Linked DNA regions of Homo sapiens. The protein of the gene in region 2 purifies or fractionates together with the protein of the main gene of each other region. This does not show direct contact. Each region holds a gene or a part of one and is shown on either strand. Other genes may lie near its edges. The genes, in order: KDM8, COX4I2, LRRC41, MTHFR, DCUN1D5, TRPC4AP and ATP1A3.

Region 1 (3,500 bases), on a different chromosome or scaffold from region 2:
GGGAGAACCTGCAACGTCACCCCAGACCCCCAGTGCCCACCTGGCTCGTGTTATGGAGAAGGTGCGTGTCATGAGGGTACAGAGCCCCTGACTCCTGCGGGGAATACAGCCGGATGTACTTCCTCCCCATCACCTGGGGAGAGAGACCCTGACAGTCAGCTGGTGGCCTCACTCCACTGCTGCCCCAAGCCCACTCTGGCCTCTGTGCCCTTCCACATGCTGCTCCCTGGGCCCAGCCTGCCCTTCCCCACCACACACATGCTTATGGTTCCACGTGTATGTTTTTCTTTCTTTTTTATTTTTTAGAGACAGGGTCTCACTCGGTCATCCAGGCTGGAGTGCAGTGGTACGATCATGGCTCACTGCAGTCTCGACCTCCTGGCCTCCAGAGATCCTCCTGCCCCAGCCTCCCCAGTAGTTGGGACTACAGGTATGCCCCACCACACCCAGCTGATTTTTGTATTTTTATTTTTGGTAGAGATTAGGTTTTAATATGTTGCCCAGGCTGGTCTTGAACTCCTGGCCTCAAGTGATCCTCCTGACTCGGTCTCCCAAAGTGCTGGGATTATAGGTGTGAACTACCAAACTTGGCCTAAGGTATGTTTTTCTTCCAAATACATTTTGAAAAATAACTTCATTTTTGGAGCCCACAATTATTAGGCGCTTGTCTGTGCCAGGCACTGCTTAAGTGCTTTATGTGTGTTAACTGGTTTAATCCTCTCTGAGGTGGTTTATCTTCACTCTCATTTTGCAGGTGAGGAAACTGAAGCACAGAGAGATTAAATGAGCTGCCCAAGCTCACACAGCTGAGGTGTGGCAGGGCTGCTGTCTGCGCCAGGCACGCTGGCTCCCGAAGCCCAGCTCTTAGCCCACTCCTGGGCTGCCTCTCTGGACTGGTCTGCTGGGGTAGGAGAACGTTCTCCTTTACTAAACCTCTCTTTGCCTGCGAAAACCAGGGTGGTCTTACAGCAGTAGACAGAGGTGCCTCCCCTTGCAGCAAATCCATCTGCTCCTCTGACTGGGCCTCAGGAAAAAAACCTCCCAGTGACTGAGAAAACTCCTCCCCCAACCTGCCACCTCCTATTTGGAAGCTGGTCTGGATCGCATGGGTAGCAGGCGGGGAGGGGCAGAGGCACCGGGCACCCACACCAGCACTCGCTCCCTCTCCCGAGGGCTCCCCTGTGAGGGATCTTGGGAGGAGCACATGCAGGAGGAGCCGCTTCTGGAAGCACCGACTGCAGAGGCCTTCCTGGGCCTGGGGCCGTTTGTGGGTTTGCTTTATATTTTTGTCCTCATCCCCTTCAGTGCTTCTTGTTTCTTTTTAAGAGCCCGGTGTTTAAAGGCAGAGAATGTGGCCGGCCAGGTGTCTGGGCCAGGAGGAGTTAGAAGGCCACTATTCCAGCTGCAGCTCCAACCTGCACTAGGAAGTTTTGCTGGGGATCCTGATGTAGTGGGGAGATGGTTCCCTGGGGACCAAACCAGGCATTGATGGTGATTTCCTCCTCCTCCCCATCGCCCAGGCTGCAGTAGTCGGGGATGCTGATGTCCTGCTTCAACTCCGGGATCTGTGGGCGGCAGAGCAGACATGAGATGTGGGGATCCGGCTGGGGACACCGCAGCCCGGAGGCCAACGAAGAGTCAGAAACACATACCTATATCCATTATGTGTGTGTGTGTTTGAGACAGGGTCTGGCTCTGTTTCTCAGGCTGGAGTGCAGTGGCGTGATCTCAGCTCACTGCAGCCTCTGCCTCCTGGGCTCAAGTGATCCCCCCACCTCAGCCTCCTTACTAGCTGGGACTACAAGCATGCACCACACCCGGCTAATTTTTTTTTAATTTTTGTTTTTGTAGAGACAGGGTTTCGCCATGTTGCATAGGCTGCTCTCAAAATCCTAGACTTAATTGATCCACCCGCCTCGGCCTCCCAAAGTACTGGGATTACAGGCGTGAGCCACCGCACCCGGCCCTTGCCGTCCTAGTTTTAAAAGCCAGGGTAGGCACAGAGGATTTGTTGCCATACCTGGCAGAAACAGGCTGGGCAGAGAAGAGAAACTGCCTGACGAGAAAGGCAGGTGTGGGCCTGGGTCTGTGCTCTGAGCTTTATATGATGCAGTAAGGGTGGCGCGGCTCCCCATGGCCTCTGACAGAGTTATATGCCACACATCAAGCGATCTTGGATGTTCACGGTGGGGCAGGGCCGCAGTGGCCTGGCCTCCTTTATTTATTTATTGTAATTTTTTTTTTCAAAGACAGTCTTGTTCTGTCACCCAGTCCGGAGTGCAGTGGTACCATCATGGCTCACTGTAGCCTCAACCTGCAGAGCTTAAGCGATCCTCCTGCCTCAGCCTCCCAAATTGCTGGGACCACAGGAGCATGCCACCGTGCCTGGCTAATTTTATTTTTGTAGAGATGGGGTCTTGCTATGTTGTCCAGGCTGGTCCTGCTTGGTCTCCCAAAGTGCTGGGACTACAGGTATGAGCCACTGCACATGGCCCTGGCCTCCTTTACACAAAGCCAGGGTCTCAGAGTGAAAACACACTCACTCTAAGTCCACTTCCTGTCCAGACCCTTAGCAGGCACCTCAGTTACCTCCGGGGTTGAACCCACCAGAGCAGGCCACCAGCCCACACCCCCCAGGCCACCGAGAACCCCAGGGTTCTTCACGGGACCCTGGATGGACCTGGCGGCATTTTTCAAGCTTGAGAGGCATGAAAACAGGGTTGCCAGAGGGACACAGGGCTTTTTAAGAGTCACTGCTCCGCAGCCTGAAGGCACCTGCAGGTGGACACTACCATTCCTTCGGGAGCAGTGACGGTAACTTCAGGCTGCTGGCTCAGAAACCAGTGTGTACCAGGAAAAGCTGGAATGTTCTCCCTGCAGGGAGCTTGGTCCCAGACACTGCTATTCAGACCTTTAAGAACCTGTCTCAAATCAGCTGTGCAGAAACGCAGCCGCGCCTGCTGCTTAGGACTGAAGTACAAGTTCGCAAGCTGAGGTCCCTCCCAGGGCTGTGAGGGGTTCCTCCCAAAGGTAACCCGACGCTGCTGCTTTTGACCAGAACTGGCCCTGTGGAATCTGAGCAGAAACTATGATTGGTCCCTGATGACATCATCAGGATTTCTGAAAGGTGATTGGCTGACCAGATCATGTCATCAGAATCACTGGCCGAGGATGCAGAGACCCGAAGGGAATCAGTGCTCCCGAGATGTGACTAATAACTGAGGCAGGCTTAAACTGATGGCCAAAATCTTCTAGAACACGGGGTCCCTGGGAGAAAAGTCAATAAGAGGTTCTGGGACAAGAATTTGGTAGGAGTCCCTGAGCGTCCTGTAGGTAGAGAAGGTTCTAGAACACTGTCCTTGCCACACGGCATGATAACACCTGGGCATGGGCTGCTGGGACTTCTCCAGGGTCCTCTCCACAGCATGGTAGACACTCAGCTCTGGGACCCAAGGTAAACACCCAGGCGGCCCTCCATTACCCGAAACATCTTTCAAGTC
Region 2 (4,027 bases):
GTCACTAGGCTCGAGTGCAGTGGCATGATCTTGGCTCACCGCAACCTCTGCCTTGCGGGTTCAAGCCATTCTCCTGCCTCAGCCTCCTGAGTAGCTGGGACCACAGGCGCCTGCCACCATGCCTGGCTAATTTTGTTTGCATTTTTAGTAGAGACGGGGTTTCGCTGTGTTAGCCAGGATGGTCTCCATCTCCTGACCTCATGATCTGCCCCCCTTGGCCTCCCAAAGTGCTGGGAATTTTTTTTTTCTTTTTCTTTTTCTTTTTTTCTGAGACAGAGTCTTGTTCTGTTGCCCAGGCTGGAGTGCAGTGGCCCGATCTCGGCTCACTGCAACAGCCGCTTCCCAGGTTCAAGTGATTCTCCTGCCTCAGCCCTCTGTGAAGCTGGGACTATAGGTGCGCGCCACCACGCCCTGCTAACTTTTTTTTTTTTTTTTTTTTTTTTTGAGATGGAGTCTAGCTCTGCTGCCCAGGCTAGAGTGCAGTAGCCGGATCTCGACTCACCGCAACCTCCGCCTCCCGGGTTCAAGCGATTCTCCTGCCTCAGCCTCCTGAGTAGCTGGGATTACAGGTGCGTGCCACCACGCCCAGCTAATTTTTGTATTCTTAGTAAAGATGGGGTTTCACCATGTTGGCTAAGCTGTCTCAAACTCCTGACCTCGTGATTTGCCTGCCTTGGCCTCCCAAAGCGCTGAGATTACAGGCATGAGCCACCGCGCCCGCCCAATTTTTCTATTTTTAATAGAGAAGGTGTTTCGCCATGCTGGGCAGGCTGGTCTCAAACTCCTGACCTCAGGTGATCCTCCCGCCTCGGCCTCCCAAAGTGCTAGGATTACAGGCGTGAGCCACTGCTGGCCTAAAAGATGCTTCTGGAGTAGGAGGCATTGGGCCTGGCTGGAAGGTTTGCGTCTGCAAAGGCCTGAAGAGAACATCCCAGGTGGGAGAAACAGCAAGGAGGGGAGGTGTGGAGGAGGCAGGGAGACCCTGTTCTTGGGACTACTGTCTGCAGAGGGTCTCCAGAGGCAGGACCCCGGTAGGGACACTGATGCAGGAGGCGCTCTGCAGTGCCTCCCCCCAATCTGTGGGCCGGGGTGCCCCCAGGGACGCAGGCTGTGCGCTCCCACGCCCTGCCGAAGCAGGACGTTCCCACGCTGGGGCGGCCCCGAGAAAGGCTGTGGGGCGGGCCGGGGGCGGGCGCCCGCACTCAGGTCCCTCCGCAGCGGGTTCTCAGTTGCTCGCTGGGCAGACCCAGGTCGCGCTCCCACTGCCGAGCCCGCGAGGTGAGTGAGTTGGGGGAGGACCCCGCCACCCAAGCCCGCGCGGGTCAGGGGCGCGGCTCGGTCTCCTGCCTTCGCCGCTGGGTCACGCCCCAGTGGTCCCTGTCTTAGAGGGTTGGGGGGCTTCTTGTAGGTTAGAGTTGAAGACTCCTGGGGAGTCTGCATATGTGTGCCATCTCTTTCCCCAAATATAGATTACATCCTCCCTCTCTTGATATGTGGAGCTCTCCCACCCACTAATCATAATCACTGGCCGGAGCCCCTCTTTTCCAGAAGTGTGGGCCGCCCCCTCCCACTTATCACCTGTAGTGTGCCCCCTCCCTCACTCTATTTGTTGGGTGCCCCTCTCTCTCCCTAGATGTGGGACTCCCCTTCTTTTCCCCAGATGTGTGTCTCCCTCCCTCTGACCCAGTTAAGTCCCCATCCTCTAAAGCCCCTCCCCACCACCATGGATGCCAAACCCTGAGTCTTCCCTGGGGGTGGGAGACTGGGCTCAGCCAGACTGGCTAAGCCCAGTCCCCACCCCAACCAGATCCAGCAGAGCAGGCCTGTGTGCACGTAGGCAGCCAATTAGGGGGGAAGGGGTGGGGGCCAGACCGTCTGTCTGTTCTGCCGGTGCAGGGGCCTCTGGCCCCTGCAGGGAAGAGAGACTCAAGAACTGCTCCCTCTCCACCTGGACCCCACCCAGCTTCCTCTGGGGAGCAAACAAGTGAGCGGGGTTCTCCAATCTGGCCAGACTGAGCTGGGGCTGGCACCAGAACCCAAGCCCTCAGCCTCAAACTCTTCAGACCCTGGCCCAAGACTTAGGCCTCCTCCCACTTCTCAGATGGTGAATTGAGGTCCCAAAAAGGGGCTTCAAAGGTCTAGGACCCCCATTGGCCCCCCGCTGGGGATATCAGACAAAATTAGAAGGGTCAAGGGCATGAGGGTGACCTTGAAACACTGGGACACCCCTACCACTACCATACCAGTGGAAAAGGATTTTTCCATCTGGCCCTGCGGTTTGGGGGCAGAGGGTGATGTGGGGGCAGAACTCATCTATACCTTCACGCCCCCAGATGCTCCCCAGAGCTGCCTGGAGCTTGGTGCTGAGGAAAGGTGGAGGTGGAAGACGAGGGATGCACAGCTCAGAAGGCACCAGTGAGACCTGGACTCCTTCCTCCCTGCCTAACTCCAGAGATAGGGGCAGGGGTCCCCTCTGCAGGCTGCCCCCTTTGCCCTTCCATGCCACCCTGGGCCTGTTCCTACCACACTTCCCATGTTCCCATGATCCCACTCCTTGGTCCAAGGTCAAGTTTCTCCAGGAAATGGAGTGCGCGGGGTGAGCAGACAGTGGTCATCTCCATTCCAAGCTTCCTTAGGAGCCAGCCCCCAAGCCTCAGGCCCCTAGACCTTTTGTTCTGAGGTGGAGGATGCTGACAGAACCTTGGACCCTGATTCCTCCTTTCCAGACCCTAGTTTCAATGCTAGTAAGAAGAAAGAGACCTAAAGTAGGAGAGACTTCAGCCAGATAGCAGAAGGGCCTTGCTGACCCATGGAGAATAACAAAGATAACATTTATTGAGCCCTTACTAGTACCCCAAGCTATTATAAACCTCCTTTTTTTTTTTTTTTGAGATAGAGTCTTGCTCTGTCGCTCAGGCTAGAGTGTTCAGTGGCGCAATGTCGGCTCACTGCAACCTCCGCCTCCTGGGTTCAAACAATTCTCCTGACTCAGCCTCCCGAGTAGCTGGGATTATAGGTGCCCACCACTGCGCCCGGCTAATTTTTGTATTTTTAGTAGAGGAGAGGTTTTACTGTCTTGGCCAGGCTGGTCTCGAACTCCTGACCTCGTGATCCACCCGCCTCAGCCTCCCAAAATGCTAGGATTACAGGCATGAGCCACCAAGCCCGGCCACCTTCTTTATTAATATAGTTAGAGATAGGGTGTCCCAAGGGCAGCCTGGACTCAGCTCCCTCCATTGTGTCTGCAGCCCGTGGTGGGGGGAAGATGTCCCCCTACACCAACTGCTATGCCCAGCGCTACTACCCCATGCCAGAAGAGCCCTTCTGCACAGAACTCAACGCTGAGGAGCAGGCCCTGAAGGAGAAGGAGAAGGGAAGCTGGACCCAGCTGACCCACGCCGAAAAGGTGGCCTGTAAGTGTCAGGGTGGGGCTGGCTGGAGAGAGTGGGTTGGGGGCTGACTTTGGAAAGAATGGCCTGTCAGGGATCAGAGGGCAGAGAGAGGCCCCCAAGACAGCCAGAAACCTCCAAACACCTGAGGGGTGAAGTTCATGCCTTTGTTCGTTTCTTTATTCACTCACCTGTTTGTGCATAGCCTGATGCTAGGCAATGCTGGGGACATGAGGTGAATCACCTGGATAGTTCCTGCCCCCATGGTGCCCCCGGTCCCGTGGGGAAAACCAATACAGACTCCAATAATTGTAATACAGAACATGTGGCTAGGGTGAGGTGTGTTCAAGGACTGTGAGATGAAATCTTGGTGGACCTCCCAGAGGAGGGCACATTCCAGCTGGCCTTTAAGGGTGAAGAGGAGGGCACTGCCAGGGAGTGGGAACTGCATGGGGAAGGGTGTCAGAGCAGGAGACTGTGGAGGGCCCTGGAATTGAGTGATGTGGGGGAGATGGGACAGAGAGAGGCAGGTGAGGCGGTTGGGGAGGAGCCCTCTGACCCTGGGAGGCTGGAGGGATGTGTGGTCCCTTGTCATGTCCACCAGAGCATCCCTGAGCTGACCCTTTGAAATTTGGAGC
Region 3 (3,500 bases), on a different chromosome or scaffold from region 2:
ATCACCAAGAGCAGGATGAAGAGGGACTGGATGGAGACTGAAGTGAAGGAGAGCAGTTAGGCTGTTGTAATAGACCAGATGAAAGGTGATGTGGACTACATTCGTGTAAAAGCATAGGGAATTAACACTTTCATTCAGCCCGTACATCGAGGACCTACTATGTACAAATAATTATACTAGATTCTTGGATGTCAAGATTCAGTTATTCTGTAAGTAAAGATAAAAAGAGACCCTGGAGCGGAAGTTTTGGTATACTCCAAGATCTTAGACTTGTTCTTTTTCTTTGAGATGGGGTCTCACTCTGTCACCCAGGCTGCAGTGCAGTGGCATGATATCAGCTCACTGCCACCTCTGTCTTCTGGGCTCAAGCAATTCTCCCATCTCAGCCTCTCGAGTAGCTGGGACCACAGGCGTGCCCCACAACACCCAGCTAATTTTTTTTTGTATTTTTGGTAGAGATGGGGTTTTGCCATGTTGCCCAGGCTAGTCTCAAACTCCTGGACTTAAGCAATGCCCCCTACCTCTGACCTCCAAAGATTACAGGAATTACAGGTGTGAGTTTGACTTGTTCTTGATTGGACAGAGATGCCATTGACAGGATAAAAATAACCACCAACATTTAGCGAGCTTATTATGGCTGGGCATTGTTTTAAACAGATTATAAGCATGATCTTCACAACAATGTCATGAGTTAATTACTGTTATCTCCATTTTATTTTATTTTATTTTATTTTATTTGTGAGACAGAGTCTTGCTCTGTCGCCCAGGCTGAAGTGCAGTGGCGCCATCTCGGCTCACTGCAGTCTCTACCTCCTGAGTTCAAGTGATTCTTGTGCCTCAGCCTCCCAAGTAGCTGGGATTACAGGCGTGCATCATTACACCTGGCTAATTTTTGTATTTTTAGTAGAGATGGGGTTTCACCATGTTGGTCAGGCTGGTCTCAAACTCCTGACCTCAAGTGATCTGCCCGCCTTGGCCTCCCAAAGTGCTGGTATTACAGGTGTGAACCATTGCATCCCACCTATTTTTTATTTTTTGAGGCAGGGTCTTGCTCTGTCATCCAGGCTGGAGTGCAGTGGTCTAAGCACAGCTCACTTCAGCCTCAACCTCCTGGGCTCCAGCCATCCTCCCACCTTAGCCTCCCAAGTAGCTGTGACCACAGGTGCACACCATCACACTCTGCTAATTTTTGTTTTGTTTTGAGATAGGGTTCTCACTGTGTCACCTGGGCTCAAGTACAGTGGTGTGATCATAGCTCACTGTAGCCTCGAACTCCTGGGCTTAAGCGATCCTCTTAGCCTCCCAAAGTGCTGGGATTACAGGTGTGAACCACTGTGCCCAGCCTCCATTTTTTTCCAGTTGAAGAAACTAAGGCTTAAAGAGGCTTAAATAATTTGTCCAAGGATTCACATTTAACTAAGTAGTTAGGATTGCACTCAGATTTGTCCTACTCTAGAGGCCAAACCCTTTAGACACTATACTATAACAGCTCTTAGAACTAGAGAAGTTGGCAAGAGCAGGTTTTGTTTTTAAGATATATTGACTTTAGAGACACGAATTGTTTCTATTCTTCATAGGAAAGTACTAGTTCAGAATATAGCAGTAGCCCAAAGGATGGTAGTGGTTAATCTGGAAAAATGGAAAAGGAATTCAGGAAAGACTTAATAAAGGGCATGTGATACTTGAAAGATGAGTAGTTGATATACTGAAAGTGGCAACGACATTCCTATTAGAACAGCATGACAAAGGACATTCCTATTGGAAAGAACAGCATGACAAAGGTACAGGGGCAGAAAGCGGCATAATATGTTAGGTAAATGAAAAAGTAGTTAAGTGTGGCTGAAATGTAGGAGGCAAAGCAGGGAGCTGATACTAGCAGGGCAGATTATGAAAGACCTTTTATCACACATATTCAGTAGGTCCTTTTCAATGCCAAATGGTTCATTTTGCTTGGGCAGAAGTGAACTGACCAGCTCCTAAATAAGCATGTCAAGCTCATTTAGCATGTCAGCTTGTTTTGTGGGATGATCTCACCCTTGCCCCTGAAATTCCAGCTTCCAACTGAGTGGCTGAAGATAAGTGGACTAGAGTTTGGAACAGATCTAGATTAGCTTCTAGAGGTTCCATTTGTCAAATGAGAAGTCTACCCTTCCATTTTCCTTTCCAGTAGAATAAATAATGCTTGGAAACCTCTTGGGTGGGAGGGGGAGGGGAGGAAAAGTAAACTTTTGTTTTGATTTTTGTAGCCCTCCCAGGCCCAATACTTCAAAGCATCCTACCTCTGCTCAATATATATTACTTGGAGAGGATTGAGGAAACTGCCCTCAAGAAAGGTGAGTATCTTTCTGTCTCTTTCTCAGTCAATGATTATGAGCAAGGCACCATAATGTTCTTCCGGTAAATATTACCCCTGATACCTGCTAGAACTTCGTGCTTTTCAAAAAGTACCTTCACACCTATTTTTCTTCCTCATTCCTCAGTGTCCTATGAAACACAAAGCCAAGTATATGATCTTTATTATACTGATAAAAGTGAGACACAGGCACACCACAATTAATAGCAAAGCCAGAACAACAACCCATATCTTGTGAATCTTAGTTTCTCTATTTTACCAAGCTTCCTCCCCTCATTAGACACATCTGTTAACAGGTAACATTTAACCCTAATGTGTCAAGCATTGTCCTAGGCACTTTACCCACAGAAACTCATTTACCCTAATCCTTTCAACAACCCTATGAAATAGCTGTTATTAACATTTTACAGATGAGGAGACTGAACCACAGAGAAATTAAGTAACTTGCGCAAAGTCACATAGCTGGAGTGTAGTTTGCTGATATTCACACCCAGGCAATCTGTCTTTAGAGCCAGTGCCCTTAATCACTCTGCCATATTGCTCCTGTGAACCCAGAAGACAACATGAAAGGTTGATGTACTTTACTCATGGTGGCCAGTAAGCAGCCAAGTGTGATATTTCTCCTTACAGGCCTCTCAACTCAGGCCATCTGGCGCCGACTCTGGGATGAACTGATGAAGACAAGGCCTTCCAGTTTGGAAGTAAGTTAAGGTATCAGGTAGAATGCTAGCCTGATTTTGCATGGTAAAAGCAGGAATAGCACACAAACACAAGCTGGGTACTGATAAAGTGCAGAGGCAATGATGGAATGGATTTGGGAGGAGGGCTCTGATGGCTTGTCACAAGGTTTTGGTCCATTTGGCATTTGTCACTGAATTGCTTGCTCACTGTATTTGCAGGGGACACAAAACAGGGAAAGTTAGTGATCACAATGGATGGCAGAGCCAGGATTCCTAGAGTTCTTGATGGTGTTGGTGCAGTGGTCAAATCTAACAAAATGAAATTTAATAGAATACACCAATACTTCAATGAGTTTTAAAAGTTCCAATTGCATGGTATCGGGATGAGGGATAAAGGAGTATGATTAGTAACAGCTTGTATAAAAAAGATTAAGGGAGTTTAGTCAACAATGTGTTGAAGCCACTTA
Region 4 (3,500 bases), on a different chromosome or scaffold from region 2:
GTGCAGTGGGAAGCGGAGATGGGGGACCCTGTGGCCCCAGAGGGAATGAGGGAGGGCCTTGCTTTTTGACCTCTTCCAGTGCCTTGTGAGGTCTGAGGCCATCTCCTGATCTTGGGTTCCCTGCCCTCTGGAATCCTGTTAGTAAATATCCCTCTTTTGTGGGGTGTTGTTTTTTTTTTTTTTTTGAGATGGAGTCTTGCTCTGCCACTGAGGCTGGACTGCAGCGGCACCATCTCGGCTCACTGCAACCTCCGCCTCTTGGGTCCAAGAGATTCTCCTGGCTCAGCCTCCTGAGTAGCTGGGACTACAGCCGTGCACCACCACACCTGGCTAATTTTTGTATTTTTAGTAGAGACGGGGTTTCGCTATGTTGGCCAGGCAGGTCTCAAACTCCTGACCTCAGGTGATCTGCCTGCCTCGGCCTCCCAAAGTGTTGGGGTTACAGGTGTGAGCCACCGCGCCCAGACCCCTCTTTCGTTTTAAAGAAAAGAATAAGGCCAAGCAGGCTAAGGGCACAGCCAGGCAGAGGAACAAAAAGCTAGGGGTCGATGGTGGCAGGCCCAGGAGGGGAGTGGGTGATACAAAAGGAGCAAGGACATGGTGCAGTTCACCTCTGCATGTCCTTCATCCAGCATGGACCCATGAGTGCCCCTGATCACTGTGTCCTGAACCGAACACCGACAGGCTCTCTGGGCATCTCAGCCTCCCTAGCTCCATCCCCGCCACCAGGATGATCCAGCCACTCACCTGCCACACAGATGTCAAAGTAGTCACCAAACTCACTTCGGATGTGCTTCACCAGGTCCACTGCGTAGTTGAAGCCTCCCTCCTCCTCTTCCCACTGGTCACCTATTGGGTCTGCAGGGTTGGTGGAGGTCATAGTCACTGGGTCTCACCCAACCTCCAGAGACCCTTTCTGTTCCCTCTACCTAGCCCCGACACCCAGGACTGCGAGTCCCTGGAAGGCAGAAACTTCATATTATTTAGGTTTGGTTCGTCTCTTTCTAGCACTTGGTAAGACAGCAGGAGGGAAAAAAGCAGCCCACCAGTTCAATATTCACTGCATGCTGACCCTGTGCTGGCGGTGGAGAATAGGAGACCACCGCTGCTTCTCACCGTGCCTGGAGGATTGGAGAGCCCTTCCCTACTTCTACCTGGGCATGCCTGCCACCCTCTCCCATCCCACGGCCTTGGGGCTCCTGCCTCCTGGGAGAATTTTCTACTCATCTCAAGTGAAGGGGTCTTGTGGTAGGGAGCACGAGGCCATAGGATCCCACCCATCAGGCTCCCTCTTCCCACTCTTAGGTGGCCTGACAACAGCGGGCACCAGAGGCCTGACCGGCTATTCTCACTCCTGGATACTCTGTTACTCTGTGATTGGGCCAAGTGCTGGGTGCAGCCAGCAATCGATGCAGTGGTGTAGGCAAGGCAGAGGGTTATCAGGCCGCGACTGCATTCCTGACGGAACTCCTATGTCGAGGTCAAGAGGTGGAAGAGGTGGCTGCCTGTGTGTGGTGCCCAGGATGACTCACTACCCACAATGCCTACTGACACTACTGGCGGGGATGGGATCCTGCGGATCCTCAGCGTGGGGCCCAGGAAGAAGTAAAGGACCATTTCAGGAACCAAGTTCAGGCTACCAAGTGGCCTCCGGGAAAGCCAGAACCCAGAGTGTAGGGGAGTGCTGGCTCCACACCTCCCCGCAGCGCCATGATGTTCTTCAGGCCCAGCTGCTTAGCTTTGTGCAGATGGCCCGTGATCTCCTCCAGGCGCTGACGGCAGCAGGTCATGTGCAGGATGGTCTCCAGGCCACAGTAGTTCACGGCGGTGCTGGCGATCATCATGGAGGAGGTCTCCTTGTCTGAGCCAGGGTCACCTGCTGGGTGCCAGGTCACGTCTATGTAGAGGGGGCCACCTGCTGCCATCCGGTCAAACCTGTAGGGGGTTTGTTTCTGAAGAGAGGTTCCAGGAGAAATACCATCCGTCACTGCCTTCCCATGGGGCCCGGGAGTTAGAGAAGCATCAATGAAGGTTGGAGACAGACCAATCAGCGTTCATATCCTGGCTTTGCTACTTATAGCTGTGTGATCTTGGGTACATTACTTAATCTCTGTGAGTTCTGTTTCCTTATTTATAAGACACGGCAGATAGTAGTACCCACTTCATAATAACACTAGGATGCTGGGCGTGGTGGCTCACGCCTGTAATCCCAGCACTTCAGGAGGCTGAAGTGAGTGGATCACTTGAGGTCAGGAGTTCCAGACCGCCTGGCCAACATAGTGAAACCTCATCTCTACTAAAAATACAAAAATTAGCTGGGTGTGGTGGTGGGCACCTGTAATCCCAGCTACTTGAGAGGCTGAGGCAGGAGAATTGCTTGAGCCAGGAGGCAGAGGTTGCAATGAGCCAAGATCACACCACTGCACTCCAGCCTGGGCCACAGAATGAGACTCTGTCTCAAAAAAAAAAAAAAAAAAAAAAAAGCAACAACAACAACAAAAAACCATAACACTAGGAGAATATGACGGCAGCTGGTTCCACAGAACTTAGAACAGTGCCTGGTGTACAAACCGAATACTCAGTATATGTGAGGTGCCGTTATAATCACTATTACAGAGGTAAGACACAACAACAGCGCTATCATTTTGTGTGAGAGCAGCACTTCAGACTTTTCACAGCGCTTGCCTGTTTATTATCTCAGGTGAGTTAAGACATCATGATTGAGAGTTAGGGGAATCCTAACTGTGGCAAGCACAGCCTCGCTGTAGGAACAGTTAGAAAGAGGGTCAGCAGACTCACTTTCTTTCATGCCACCCCCCAAGCCCTGTGCAGCAGCTTACAGTTATGCAGACCAAGGCCAAGTTCCGAAACGAGACTCAAAAAAAAGCCTGGATGTGCACGAGTACTTGTGTTACAAGCTATCAACGGTGTATTTAAACATCCTTGTGCATTTAAACTTCAAAAACTTGGGAGTGACACGTGAGACGTGCATACAGTAAAAGGCATAAACTTAAAAAAAAAACTGCAATTCATGAAGTGCTAATGTAATTCAGTTGGCATTTCTAGAGTTCAAGAAGCATAATCCAAATTTCTAACTTGCTGAAAACAATCTCACTGCTTTGTGACTTCCTAAACTGCACTCGTGATCCAGCCCCCAAGTTCCCTCAAAGAATACAGTGTGAGAATCAACATTTTTAACCCATTGAAGAGTGTGTCTAAAATACCTTGACACTGTGGAGGGACTTTTACAGGCAACAGAGAAGTTGCAGATCAGATGACCCACTCTGCCTTCTCCTTCCTGCCCCCTCCGGCTGCTTTTTTCTGCCGGGTTAAAGGGCAGCCCAGCCTCAGGGCTGACAGTTTGCTCCCCAGGCACCACCACTCCCGCCTCCCACCTTAACCTTGCATGAGTTTACCTTGAGATGAGATTGACAGCTCCCTCAGCAGTTCGAGGAGGGAAGAATTCCAGGGAGAACCACTTGTCACCAGATTCCAATCGC
Region 5 (3,998 bases), on a different chromosome or scaffold from region 2:
ACTCTTAGAGAAAAACTAAGTTCAAAATTAACAACTTCCATTCACATTAAACAAAGGTTTTTTTTTTCTTCGGTTGGCATTGTTGGAAAAAAACTGAAGTTGTTAAGTAATTGCAACTTGAAACAGTAGTCTATACATAAGAATTATCGGCTAACAAAACCCAAATACCTTTTCACTCAGTATCAAAATCCAAAAATATCAGTAAGTTATTTCCGCACATTTTAAAAGACTACAAAGAAGTTCAACCTAGTAGGTGGGAAAGTATAAATATTTATTATGATTCTATTGATTTGCATAGAAATTCTATTTGTGTGTAATAGATAAATATTTGAAAACAAACTCTTACAAAGTATATTTTGATACTTAATGAATCAATATTTCAAAATAAAATGTTATATTAAGAGTTGTTTTATCACCTAAGCTTAAATAGATTTTTAAAGATAAATGATGACTTAGGACCTAAGGGTATATTAAATTACACAGATTTAAAAAAAACAACAAAAAAACACTAAAAGTTAATAATAGTCCAAATAATTGGGACAAGGCTATTTAATCCTAGGTTCTGTTCATTCTATTTCATTTTTTTCATAAAATCATTTTCATTGTTTTTCATAAAATAACTAAAATTTGGTAAGTTCAAAATGGCCTCTAGAATTTAATGGCCTTCAGAGAAACTTTTTTCAAGGAACTCAAATAATTACCCTACCACAATGATATAGAAATGATAGAACTTCTGTAACTGAGTAAAGTAAGAGTATCATATTTAAAAATTTAAATTGATAGAGCAAAGTATCACCTGAGTTCTAATAATACTGCCTGCTCAGCTATCTTAATGTACTTAACTTAAATAATTTTAATACATTATATACTTAAGATGGCCATGATATAGTACAAAAATGAATAATAATTTGCCTGTATCTTATAAAAATGTGAGCTACTAAAGTAACCATGTCAAATTCTAATGTTGACAAACAAGAGGTGTATGTATCATCGTTCACATTAATAGCCTAATACTCCATAGACTCCTTTACCAAAACACAGTAATGAGGGAAAAAAGTCGACCAATTACAAAAAAGAAGATGCAGACTATGTAAGTCATCTACCTCACAGTTTAAGCAGATCTCTCTTTAAGGAGAGCTCTATCATTATTTCCTTCTTATAATCCTGGCTACAGTCTCCTTTCAATAGTAGCATCTGAAGTTGTCATATCAAGTGCCAACCATTGATGAAAAGGCAGCTAATATGGTTATTTTTTAAAAAAGCATTTCTCAGTCGGGCGAGGTGGCTCACTCCTGTAATCCCAGCACTTTGGGAGGCCGAGGCGGGCGGATCGCGAGGTCAGGAGTTCAAGACCAGCCTAGTCAACATAGTGAAACCCCGTCTCTACTAAAAATACAAAAAATTAGCAGGGCGTGGTGGCGGGCGCCTATAATCCCAGCTACTCAGGAGGCTGAGGCAGGAGAATCGCTTGAACCCGGGAGGCGGAGGTTGCAGTAAGCGGAGATCGCGCCACTGCACTCCAGCCTGGACAACAGTGGAAGACTCCGTCTCAGAAAAACAAAACAAAACAAAAAAACAAAAAAACCATTTCTCAAACCAAAATTGCAGTTTTTTTGTAGCATAAATTTTGCTGTGATGCCTCCATGATATGCTACAAGGGGATCAAAGAGCTACTACTATATAGTTCTGCCTTGTCTTCTTTCTTACCAGTAGGACAGAGTACAAGAGCTCACAAATTATTTAATTTATGCTGAGAGCTAACAGCGTCCTGAATGCTAGAAGACAAAAAGCATGCAGGGCCTTTCCAACTCTGCACACAGGGACTTGGCATAGGTGAGGCACTATACTTCCAGAAAATGGGGCTCCTGCAATTTAAAAGGCCTCCTGCTGGGACCTTCCGGGTTAGGCCACTCCAAATACTAAATATGGAGGCCAATTATAGCATACAAGTTTTCCTTTCTACCATTCCCAAGACAGTTGTCAAGATTCCTTATGTTCTGCTTTCTTCACACTCTACAAAGAAATTCTAGAAGTGACCCTTCTGCGGATATGTACTCACTTCTAAGTCTAGAAAAAGGCAGAGGAGCGATACGGGAGTAGGGGATCGAGGGTCGGTTGTGGGGTGGGGGTGGGGGTGGGGGGAAGCGCAATTTACATATGCATCTGTTCCCCACCCTGCAGGGCACGTAGACTCTTAACGTGGGCGGCTCTTCTAGTCTCTCCATAAACGCCAGCGTGCACACACTCGAACACGAGGTCGGGTCGGGCGCGGAGACTCGCGGTGTTCGGCACCTACAGCCTAGCTCGATCAAAGGGGCCTCACCTGTCTCCAGCCCCAGCCCGGCAGGCCGGGCCCGACTCCTTTTCCTCCAGTTGTCCAGCAAAGGAGGGAGGAGGGAAGCTTGAAGGGTGGGGGGAGATGGTACCTGGAGATTTTACACTTTTTGAGGCCTCCGTCTTCCGCTACTGCTGCTGCCACCCCAGGGGATTTTCTCTTCTTCTTCACCGGCATCTTCCGCCCTCCCCGGCAGGGTGGGCAGGGGAGCCGGGGAAGGGGGTCCCTGTCCGCTGGAAGCCCCTCAGCGCTGGCACCCAGTTCCCAGAGACAGCAGCAAGCGGAGGAGCAGAGTCGCCAGCCCGCACCGGCGCGGCCCAGCCCGGCCGCCGCCCGCTCCCAGGTATCCTCGTCGTCTTTCTCTGACCGGGACAGGGCTGGCTCCTCGCCGGTGGACACTGCGGTTCGTTCTCACCGGGAGGAGATAACGCGGACAGCGCGGCAGCTCCACCAGTCACAGCAAGCAAGAGGCTCAGCCTAACCCGGAGGCGAATCGCTGAGGCCCGGAAGTGACGCAATCGCGGAGCCGGTCCCGGGAAGGGGCGTGGTTCCGGTTAGCCTCTGCCACTCGTAGGTAGGCCAGGCAGAGCGAAGCTGTCTGACCCGTCGACTGCGGCAGTCCGCGGAATTCTTGTATCCTGTCCAGGGTATCCTGACCTTTCTCATGAAGCTTCTACCGCGCTCTGATGCTGGCAGTCACCGCCAAAAAGTGAAACTACTAATACTTTGCAGTTGACGTTAAAAACAACCTGGTAAAGTAGACCAAGTTCCACTTCTGAGCTCTTCCACACGATAACCTCACCTGAAGTGTTCCCACCCCGTAAATGCATTGTCACCCTGTGTCTTGCGTGTTTTTTTTATGGGCCTGTGATCAGCCACCCACTCCCCCTTCTCCCTACCTTTGCATATCACTTTGTCCTGTATTGAAACTTAGCTCTGCCATTATTTCCACAGAGCTCACCTCTCCGATAAGAGACAGTAGGTGACTGCGACTCAGTAGAGAGAAATTTGGGGGACAGTTCTAAGGAACCTCCCCCTAGACCCAAAACACACTGTAATCTATTCATCTCCACTTAGGTGGAAATACTGTTTTTAAATAATGGTTATTGTATGTAAAGACATAGTAGAAAGTCGTTAGTAATTCTGTTGGTAAAATAATCTCTGCAAACCAACTGTGATGGGAGAAGACTAAAAGTCTTTGAGTAATAGTTGAAGTGGTTCCTGTGAAACTACCCTCACAATGGCACCCTAATCTGGTCAATCCGAATATCATATTTCCTTAGTGTTATTAATTGGTTCAGGATGGACACATACTCAGGCCAGGCCAATGAGTGCCAATGACACAAAATTGAACCACCAGAAAGCAATTTTATTTCCTATGGATTTGAACCAGAGAAGGTATGGAGAATGAAGCCAAAACTCAGAAGAGACTAGTATCAAGCAGAAAAATAGAAAAACCAGGATGTGATTATATGATATGAGCCCAAAATCCATGATATGCCCTGGAATTTTCACTTATGTGAAGCAACAAATTTCACTATTTTGCATATTTAGTTCAATTCTCTGTTACTTAAAACCAAAAGAATGTCAAAGTATATGATCCTTCAACCCATTTAAAAATGCCTGAGGCCAAAATCAAAACAGAATCAGATAAAGTCTCTAA
Region 6 (4,062 bases), 3.5 Mb from region 2:
TACTAGGGAGGCTAAGGTGGGAGGATCACTTGAGCCCAGGAAGTTGAGCTTGCCACTGCACTCCAGCCTGGGTGACAGAGCAAGATTCTGTCTCAAAAAAAAAAAAGGGTAAGCAAATAACTTATTCTGCAGGATGGGAGAGAGGAGCGGAAGGGCACAGCATGGAATAAATTAAAAAAAAAAAAAACTAAGAAAAGAAATATTTGAAAGATGAAGGTCCCCATTTTATCCTCACTATAGCTCCAGGCAGGGGGTCTCTACTTCAACTTCTGAAATAGCTCCCACACCTATATACAACCATCAGTTACCACAATAACCTGCCTTGCTTTTGTGGCTCCAGAATATTCCAGCAGCCTTGTATCTGGTGAGCTTTTTTTTTTTTTTTTTGAGATGAAGTCTCACTATGTCACCCAGGCTGGAGTGCAGTGGCGTGATCTCAGCTCACAACCTCCACCTCCCAGGTTCAAGCAATTCTCCTGCCTCAGCCTCCAGAGTAGCTGGGATTACAGGTGCTTACCACCACGCCCGGCTAATTTTTGTATTTTTAGTAGAGACGGGGCTTCGCCATGTTGGCCAGGCTGGTCTCAAACTCCTGACCTCAGATGATCCACCCGCCTCGACCTCCCAAAGCACTGGGATTACAGGAATGAGCCACTGTGCCCAGCCTCTGGTGGGCTTTTCTAGGCTCCTCCCATTCTAAGTCATTCAGCACTGGAAACAAATTAAGTTGCCTAAATTGCCTCATTTATCATGCTAAAGAACTTCTGTGGCTCCCTATTATTCTCAGAACACTGATTATCAGGATGGGTGTTTAGGAACATATCATCTAACCTCTCTGAGCCTCAGTTTCCTCATCCATATTAAGAAATGAGTCTTGAAGCATAACTCAAAAGCTTGAGGATTAAAGATAACATATGCCTTGTACCGTACTTTTTCTAAAGGTTATGTGCTCACTAAAAGTTAGTCCTCTTTCTGCCTGTCTCTACACACCCAGCTCGGTAAGGTATCTTAGCTTAAGAAGGAAAGAGCAAGTATTTCTAGGATTTTTTTTTTTTTTTGAGACAGGGTCTCACTCTGTCAATCTCCGCCTCCCAGGCTCAGGTAATCCTCCCACCTCAGCCTCCCCACAGGCACACACCACCACCATGCCCGGCTAAATTTTTGGAGACACAGGATTTTGCCGTGTTGCCTGGGCTGGTCTCGAATTCCTGGATTCAAGCGATCTGCCTGCCTCGGCCTCCCAAAGTGCTGGGATTACAGGGTCTTAAGTCAGGTCTTAAGAACACAAGGGGGAAAAAGGCTGCTCATCTATGGTTGTGTGATGGCCAGGAAAACATTTCTCACTCACAACTGCTCCTTTCGTCCACAGTCCTCCATACACACAGACCCCCTAGCCTTTATTTTATTCTATCCTTTTCGTCATTTGAGGAAGTGATATTCAAATTAAATTTAAATAAAGTTACACTGTGAAAAGTCTCACTCCCATTTTCTCCCCCTTTAGCCCAATTCCCACCTCACTCCCACCAACCACTTTATCAGTTTCTTGAGTATCCTTCAAACTTTTTATGAAAAAGCTGTCTTTAAATAAAGCTAATGTTTTACAGGTGTTAGCAAGGTTCGGGGTGGGGGAGGGTGGAAGAAGTAGTGGACTAGGTCCTATTCAACCTGGTTTACCCTAAAGCAGTGTCCTTCGCTCACTCAAAAATAACAATAATCATATGTTGGGCACCTGTTATAAGTCAGATGCTTAATATTAACTACCTTCAGCCCTTAGTATGCACCAGAAATGCACTAATGCTTTACACAATTGCCCCCTTTGATCTCCACAACAATCTTAAAAGGTAGGTTACTAATTCTCATCTTCATCTTACAAGTGAGGAAACTGAGGCACAGAAAGGTCACCTGCCCAAGCAAGAGAGAGGAGCAGGGCTTTGAACCCAGGCCTGACTCCAGAGTCCCTCTTAACCGTGACGCTCTACACTAGCAAACCAGATATAGTCTCTGCACCCGCTGGAACTCAGCCTAATGTGGGAGACGGGCGAGAAAAAGGCAGACAACAAAGAAATACGAAATTATAGACTAAGAAAGTAATGTAAACGAAACGAATTCGCGGCTGTGACAGAATAACAATGGGGACCTACTTTAGAAAGGGGAAGGAAAGAGTGTCAAGGAAAGGCCTGAGAAAATGACATTTATGAAATGCTCGGGAACCATTTGGGGGCTGCAATGATGACCCCCTCCCCCACGCCCAATACACGGGATAAACTCGAGGCCCACAGAGGCTAAAACAAACACGACAGGGTCCCCCAGACGTGTAGACGTGGCGCAAAGAAGGGAGGATCCAGAAACTGGGCCCAGGGTTCGTACACGCCATCAGTGTCCACAGCAGCCCAGCCCCGCTCGGCCCCTGACAAGGGACATCAAGCCAGCTGCTTCCCACGGCCCCGCTGCAGCTGAGAGCGTCCGGGCAGCTCACAGGGAGGCCTTCCGGCCAGCCAAAAGGGCTTTGGCCCGTCCAGCGGCGGCCTGGAAAGGCCTCTTCCCCGGCCCCCCGCCAGCTCCCGCCTGGTCCGCCCCGCCCCGCCCCTCCTGGTCCAGCCTCGTACCTGCACCGCCCGGACCAGGCCCCGGCCGGTCAGCTGGCCCTGCCGCAGCTGCAGCAGAATGTTACCAGGCCGCGGCCGGCCGCCCCATCCGCCCCAAGCCGCCACTGTGGCTGCCGACCGTCTCCCTCGGCCGGCTCCAGACCCAGCCGCTACCGGCGCCGCCGCCATGTCTCCTCGTCGGACAAACAGGAAGCAAGCGGCCTCGGGGCCGCGGAGATTTCTACGGGGCGGCGGAGGGGTCGCCGCAGCGCCCCCAGTGGGCCGTCGGCGGAGGCGCAAGCCGCGTGGCAGGGACCGTGTGCGGCGTGGAGGCTACTGGGAATTGTAGTCCTGCGCGGCAGCGGGGTAGGTGGGAAAAGAGATGTGGCCTTTCCTGCACTGCCGGTTTCTCTGGCCCCCGGGCCCAGCATTTCGGCGAAATCTCCCAAGGTCCACATTCTCCCATTTCTCTCGCCGATTTGGGCAGGATGCAGGCAGCTGGCCAAGAAATGATCCTGGGCTTCAGGTCAGGAGTCAGGCCCTCGAGTCCGCTTCCTGCCTGCTTCTCTCTACACGTGACTCACCGCGGACATCGACCAAGTCATCGCGCTCTGCCACTGCGCCTGTGTCCTCGTCAGGTCACTCCATCTATAGATTCTGGGAGCCTGATCAATCGTAGTTCCTGGGGCTTTCTCTGCGCCCGACACCAAACCATGTCTAGGGGAAAGGGAGGGTGTCTGGGATACAGTGGTGAGCAGAACGGCCTGGGATCCTTTATCACGAAATGCAGGTTACAGGGGAAGACAGCAGATCCATACACAAAGAAACGCAGTCTCAAACTGGATAAGTTGTGTAACTGGGTAGGTTGTTGTGAAATTAAATAATGGAAGGGAAAGGGATTAGTAAATTGTGACATCATATTCTCTGTCAGATGAAAACCCTGTCCTAATTTCTATCCACCAGATAGCATGTTGTCTCTAATACTCATTTTTTCAGCTAACTTCTGTGGCAGGATGGCACTGACTCCCCCCACCCAACACACACACACTTTTTCCCTTCCTAGCAGGGGGCCTGTAATAAAAATGAAAGAGGAGAGCTAAGTGTGATGTAACAGGGAATGGTGAAGATTGTGACTCATAACTAAGATGACTGTAACTTACTGCTCAAACCAGAACACTTTAAAGAATGAAAAGACACAATAAATAATTACACCGGGACGGTAGGCATAAAAGTGACTCTCCCAGGTGAACTGGCACTATGGTTACCATCCTCACACCCCATCTAAAAGGAGTAGACTCACCATCCATCTTCATAGAACTAGAAAAAAGAATCCTAAAAATCATATGGAACCAAAAAAGAGCCTGCATGTCCAAAGCAAGACTAAGCAAAAAGAATAAATCTGGAGGCATCACATTACCTGACTTCAATCTATACAATAAGGCCATAGTCACCCAAACAGCATGGTACTGGTATAAAA
Region 7 (3,500 bases), on a different chromosome or scaffold from region 2:
TTATTTATTTTTGAGATGGAGTTTCACTCTTGTCACCCAGGCTGGAGTGCAATGGCGTGATCTTGGCTCACTGCAACCTCCGCCTCCCAGGTTCAAGCGATTCTCCTGCCTCAGCCTCCTGAGTAGCTGGGATTACAGGCATGTGCCACCACGCCCCACTAATTTTGTATTTTCAGTAGAGACAGGGTTTCACCATGTTGGCCAGGCTAGTCTTGAACTCCTGACCTCAGCTGATCTGCCCGCCTTGGCCCCCCAAAGTGCTGGGATTACAGCGTGAGCCAGTGCACCCAGCCTCATTATTTTATTTTTTAACTTGATGTACTCTTCAACTTTTCATCATGAGCGTGCACTTCTTAATTTTGCAATAGGATTGTTGGCTCTTTACGGCTTGCCAGTGTTTCTCAAGATTTTTGTTTGTTTCTTTCTTTGATTGTTTGCTTTGTTAATGAGGCCCTCTGAGTCAGGCCCAAGTTGTCTTTCACAAGAATACTGTGATCCAGGCCCCCAGCCCCTTCTCCGGACCCAGGGGTCCAGATCCCAGCCCCTCCTCCCCCAGACACACGGGTCCAGGCCTCTAGCCCCTCCTCCCTCAGACTCAGGGGTCCAGGATCCCAGCCCCTCCTCCCTCAGACCCAGGAGCCCAGACCCCCAGGCCCTCCCCACCCAGACCCAGGAGCCTGGCCTTACAGTGACAGTGGCCAGCAGACCCTCTGGGACATTGGCCACGATGATGCCGATGAGGAAGATGACAGCCTCAAGCCAGGTGTATCCGAGAATGAGGGAGAGGATGAAGAAGGAGACACCCAGGAAGACAGCCACGCCGGTGATGAGCTGGATGAAGTGCTCAATCTCGATGGCGATGGGCGTCTTGCCCACCTCCAGCCCTGATGCCAGGGTGGCGATACGGCCCATGACAGTGCGGTCGCCCGTGGCCACCACCACGCCCCGAGCCGTGCCTGCAGGCCAGAGGGGTTAGGCTGAGGTGGGGTGGCTCAGGGAGGTTCTGGAGGCCTGACCCCCTGGGACACATCCCTGTGTCTGCCCCAGCTGTGTGTCTTCTCTGCACCCGCCTCACCTTCCACACAGTTGGTGGAAAAGAAGGTGATGTTCCGAGTCTCCAAGGGGTTGTCGTGAGTGCAGTCGGGAGAGCGAGTCTGGGGCTCGGATTCGCCAGTCAGGGAGGAGTTGTCCACCTGGGGGTAGGTGCAGCAGAGAGAGGGTTCAGTCCAGGGCCTGGGACAGGAGGGTATTTGTGTACAGGGCTTGGGGCTGAAGCCTGTGTGCCTGGAGATCACAGCTAGAAGCCTGGGTGCCCAGTGGGTGAGTGGTGTGTGGGAGGCCAGAGGCTGGGATCTTGAAGGTGGGGAAGGCACAGTGCTGCTGGCCAAGGTCTAGGGTCCCTAAGGATCTCCGAAAGGTGAGGGCTGGGCCTGGACTCCTGACTGTTGGGTGAGGAGGTGGCCCAGGGCCTAAACTCCTGGGTCTGAGGGAGGAGGGCCTGGGGGCCTGGACTCCTGGGTCTGAGGGAGGAGGGGTTGGGACCTGGACTCCTGAGTGTGAGGGAGGAGGGGCTGGGCCTGAGCTCCTGGGCAGCCCGAGGGAGGGTAAAGCCGGGCCCTAGGCCCAGGCCCACCTTGCAGCCGTGGGCTGAGATGATCCGCAGGTCAGCTGGCACTCGGTCTCCACCCTTGATCTCCACCAGGTCCCCGACCACCACCTCCTCAGCGTTCACCTGCATCTTCTCACCTTCCCGGATCACCAGGGCTTGCTGAGGTGGGATGGAGTAATGTCACCTCCCAGACTCCCTCTGCCTGGGGGTCACTGGGCCCGGCCCCCAGCCCATACACTAACACCCCCGTCTGGCCCCTTGCTGGGCACCCTTCACCTGGGGCACCATGTTCTTGAAGGACTCCATGATCTTGGAGCTCTTGGCCTCCTGGTAGTAGGAGAAGCAGCCAGTGATGATCACCACGGCCGCCAGCACGATGCCCAGGTACAGCTGTGGGGAGATGTGGGGATGTTGATCAGGGGCCGCCCAAGCCACTCTCCACCAGTCCCTGCTCGCCTGGAGTCTGGGAAGGGAGCTTTGTGTCAGTGGGGGTCTGTATTTGTGTGTCTGACCCTAGGTTGGTTATGAGGGTTGGTGTGTCTGAGTCTCCCCTGTTTGTGCTTGAGTCCCTCTTTCTGTAATGGTTGTGTTTGAATCTAAGGGTCTGTCGATTTTTTTTTTGAGACAGAGTCTCACTCTGTCGCCCAGGCTGGAGTGCAATGGCATGATCTTGGCTCACTGCAATCTCCGCCTCCTGGTTCAAGCGATCCTCCTGCCTCAGCCTCCTGAGTAGCTGGGACTACAGGTGCATGCCACCACACCTGGCTAATTTTGTGTATTTTTAGTAGAGATGGGGCTTCACCATGTTGGCTAGGATGGTCTTGATCTCCTGACCTTGTGATCTATCACCTTGGCCTCCCAAAGTGCTGGGATTACAGGTGTGAGCCATCTTTCCTGGCATTTTTTTTTTTTTTTTTTTTTGAGACAGGGTCTCGCTCTGCTGCCTAGGATGGAGTACAGTGGCACAATCTCAGTTCACTGTAGCCTCAACCTCCCAGATTCAAGCAATCCTCCCTCCTCAGCCTCCGGAGTAGCTAGGACTACAGGTGTGCGCCACCAGGCCCGGCTATGTTTTGTGTTTTTTTAGAGGCTGGGTCTGTCTGGGTATGTTACTCAGGCTACTGGAACTCCTGGTCTCAAGTTACCCTCCTGCCTTGGCCTCCCAAGGTGCTGGGATGACAGGCGTGAGCCACCATGCCCGACTTGTCCATCTGTTTTGTGTGTGTGTCTGTCCTCCTGCACATGTTGAGTCTGGGATGCGGCTGTCTGTCCATGTGTCTGTCTGACTGGCTGCATGCCTGACTTTACATTCTACAAGGCAGCTTCTTTGGTTCTCTGTGTGTGGATCTCTGTCTCTGTGTCTCCAGCTCTGCCTCTCTGTGAGAGCTTATGTCTAAGACTGTTTAGATTTGAACATCTGAGGACACTCTCTGTGCCTGACTCTCATGTCTCTCTGTCACCAGGTTATGCCTGCATTGCTGTGTGTGTGTGTGCGTGTCAGTGTGTGTGTGAGTTTCTCTGTCAGTGTATATCTGAGTCTGTGTCTGTGTTTCTGAATTAGGTGGCCATGTTTGAAACCACATCCTGGTGTGGCATCTGCGTTGACCCTCCGTGCACATGCGTGTGTGTGCACACACGCCTACCCAGGTGAGCAGCTCTGTGTGGCTGGTGTGTGGTCTGTGTTATGCGCATGGGATCTGAGGCTGCATCTCGAATGTGTCCCTGTGTTATGGGGATGGGCCCTGATGTATCAGCAGCGGGGTGTGCCTGGGTCTCTATGTGACACTCACTCTGGGTATCTGTCAAGCCATGACCACCTGCTGGTGTCTGTTCTCAAGGCCGCTGAGGTCACACAGCCTTGGGACAGAGCCCCGGCTCACACATCCTGCTG

Evidence for each region.
Region 1: the proteins of COX4I2 (region 2) and KDM8 purify together in Homo sapiens (affinity purification with mass spectrometry; one large-scale study listed by BioGRID and IntAct). This does not show direct contact.
Region 3: the proteins of COX4I2 (region 2) and LRRC41 purify together in Homo sapiens (affinity purification with mass spectrometry; one large-scale study listed by BioGRID and IntAct). This does not show direct contact.
Region 4: the proteins of COX4I2 (region 2) and MTHFR purify together in Homo sapiens (affinity purification with mass spectrometry; one large-scale study listed by BioGRID and IntAct). This does not show direct contact.
Region 5: the proteins of COX4I2 (region 2) and DCUN1D5 purify together in Homo sapiens (affinity purification with mass spectrometry; one large-scale study listed by BioGRID and IntAct). This does not show direct contact.
Region 6: the proteins of COX4I2 (region 2) and TRPC4AP purify together in Homo sapiens (affinity purification with mass spectrometry; one large-scale study listed by BioGRID and IntAct). This does not show direct contact.
Region 7: the proteins of COX4I2 (region 2) and ATP1A3 purify together in Homo sapiens (affinity purification with mass spectrometry; one large-scale study listed by BioGRID and IntAct). This does not show direct contact.

What each region holds. Positions count from the first base shown.
Region 1 is NC_000016.10:27,217,026-27,220,525, reverse strand, and holds part of KDM8 (bifunctional peptidase and arginyl-hydroxylase JMJD5), read right to left. Parts: intron 1,566-3,500; coding exon 1,416-1,565; intron 134-1,415; coding exon 41-133; intron 1-40. UniProt on the Homo sapiens protein: Bifunctional enzyme that acts both as an endopeptidase and 2-oxoglutarate-dependent monooxygenase.
Region 2 is NC_000020.11:31,636,685-31,640,711, forward strand, and holds the start of COX4I2 (cytochrome c oxidase subunit 4 isoform 2, mitochondrial), read left to right. Parts: upstream 1-1,227; 5' UTR 1,228-1,278; intron 1,279-2,333; coding exon 2,334-2,415; intron 2,416-2,424; exon of another isoform or gene 2,425-2,499; coding exon of another isoform or gene 2,500-2,596; intron 2,597-3,248; coding exon 3,249-3,413; intron 3,414-4,027. UniProt on the Homo sapiens protein: Component of the cytochrome c oxidase, the last enzyme in the mitochondrial electron transport chain which drives oxidative phosphorylation.
Region 3 is NC_000001.11:46,297,117-46,300,616, reverse strand, and holds part of LRRC41 (leucine-rich repeat-containing protein 41), read left to right. Parts: intron 1-2,246; coding exon 2,247-2,333; intron 2,334-2,983; coding exon 2,984-3,054; intron 3,055-3,500. UniProt on the Homo sapiens protein: Probable substrate recognition component of an ECS (Elongin BC-CUL2/5-SOCS-box protein) E3 ubiquitin ligase complex which mediates the ubiquitination and subsequent proteasomal degradation of target proteins.
Region 4 is NC_000001.11:11,799,465-11,802,964, forward strand, and holds part of MTHFR (methylenetetrahydrofolate reductase (NADPH)), read right to left. Parts: coding exon 3,417-3,500; intron 1,953-3,416; exon of another isoform or gene 1,936-1,952; coding exon 1,697-1,935; intron 859-1,696; coding exon 748-858; intron 1-747. UniProt on the Homo sapiens protein: Catalyzes the conversion of 5,10-methylenetetrahydrofolate to 5-methyltetrahydrofolate, a cosubstrate for homocysteine remethylation to methionine. Represents a key regulatory connection between the folate and methionine cycles.
Region 5 is NC_000011.10:103,089,361-103,093,358, forward strand, and holds the start of DCUN1D5 (DCN1-like protein 5), read right to left. Parts: upstream 2,801-3,998; 5' UTR 2,513-2,800; coding exon 2,427-2,512; exon of another isoform or gene 2,324-2,426; intron 1-2,323. UniProt on the Homo sapiens protein: Contributes to the neddylation of all cullins by transferring NEDD8 from N-terminally acetylated NEDD8-conjugating E2s enzyme to different cullin C-terminal domain-RBX complexes which is necessary for the activation of cullin-RING E3 ubiquitin ligases (CRLs).
Region 6 is NC_000020.11:35,090,008-35,094,069, forward strand, and holds the start of TRPC4AP (short transient receptor potential channel 4-associated protein), read right to left. Parts: upstream 2,801-4,062; 5' UTR 2,775-2,800; coding exon 2,607-2,774; intron 1-2,606. UniProt on the Homo sapiens protein: Substrate-recognition component of a DCX (DDB1-CUL4-X-box) E3 ubiquitin-protein ligase complex required for cell cycle control.
Region 7 is NC_000019.10:41,984,231-41,987,730, forward strand, and holds part of ATP1A3 (sodium/potassium-transporting ATPase subunit alpha-3), read right to left. Parts: intron 2,000-3,500; coding exon 1,886-1,999; intron 1,769-1,885; coding exon 1,634-1,768; intron 1,194-1,633; coding exon 1,076-1,193; intron 957-1,075; coding exon 688-956; intron 1-687. UniProt on the Homo sapiens protein: This is the catalytic component of the active enzyme, which catalyzes the hydrolysis of ATP coupled with the exchange of sodium and potassium ions across the plasma membrane.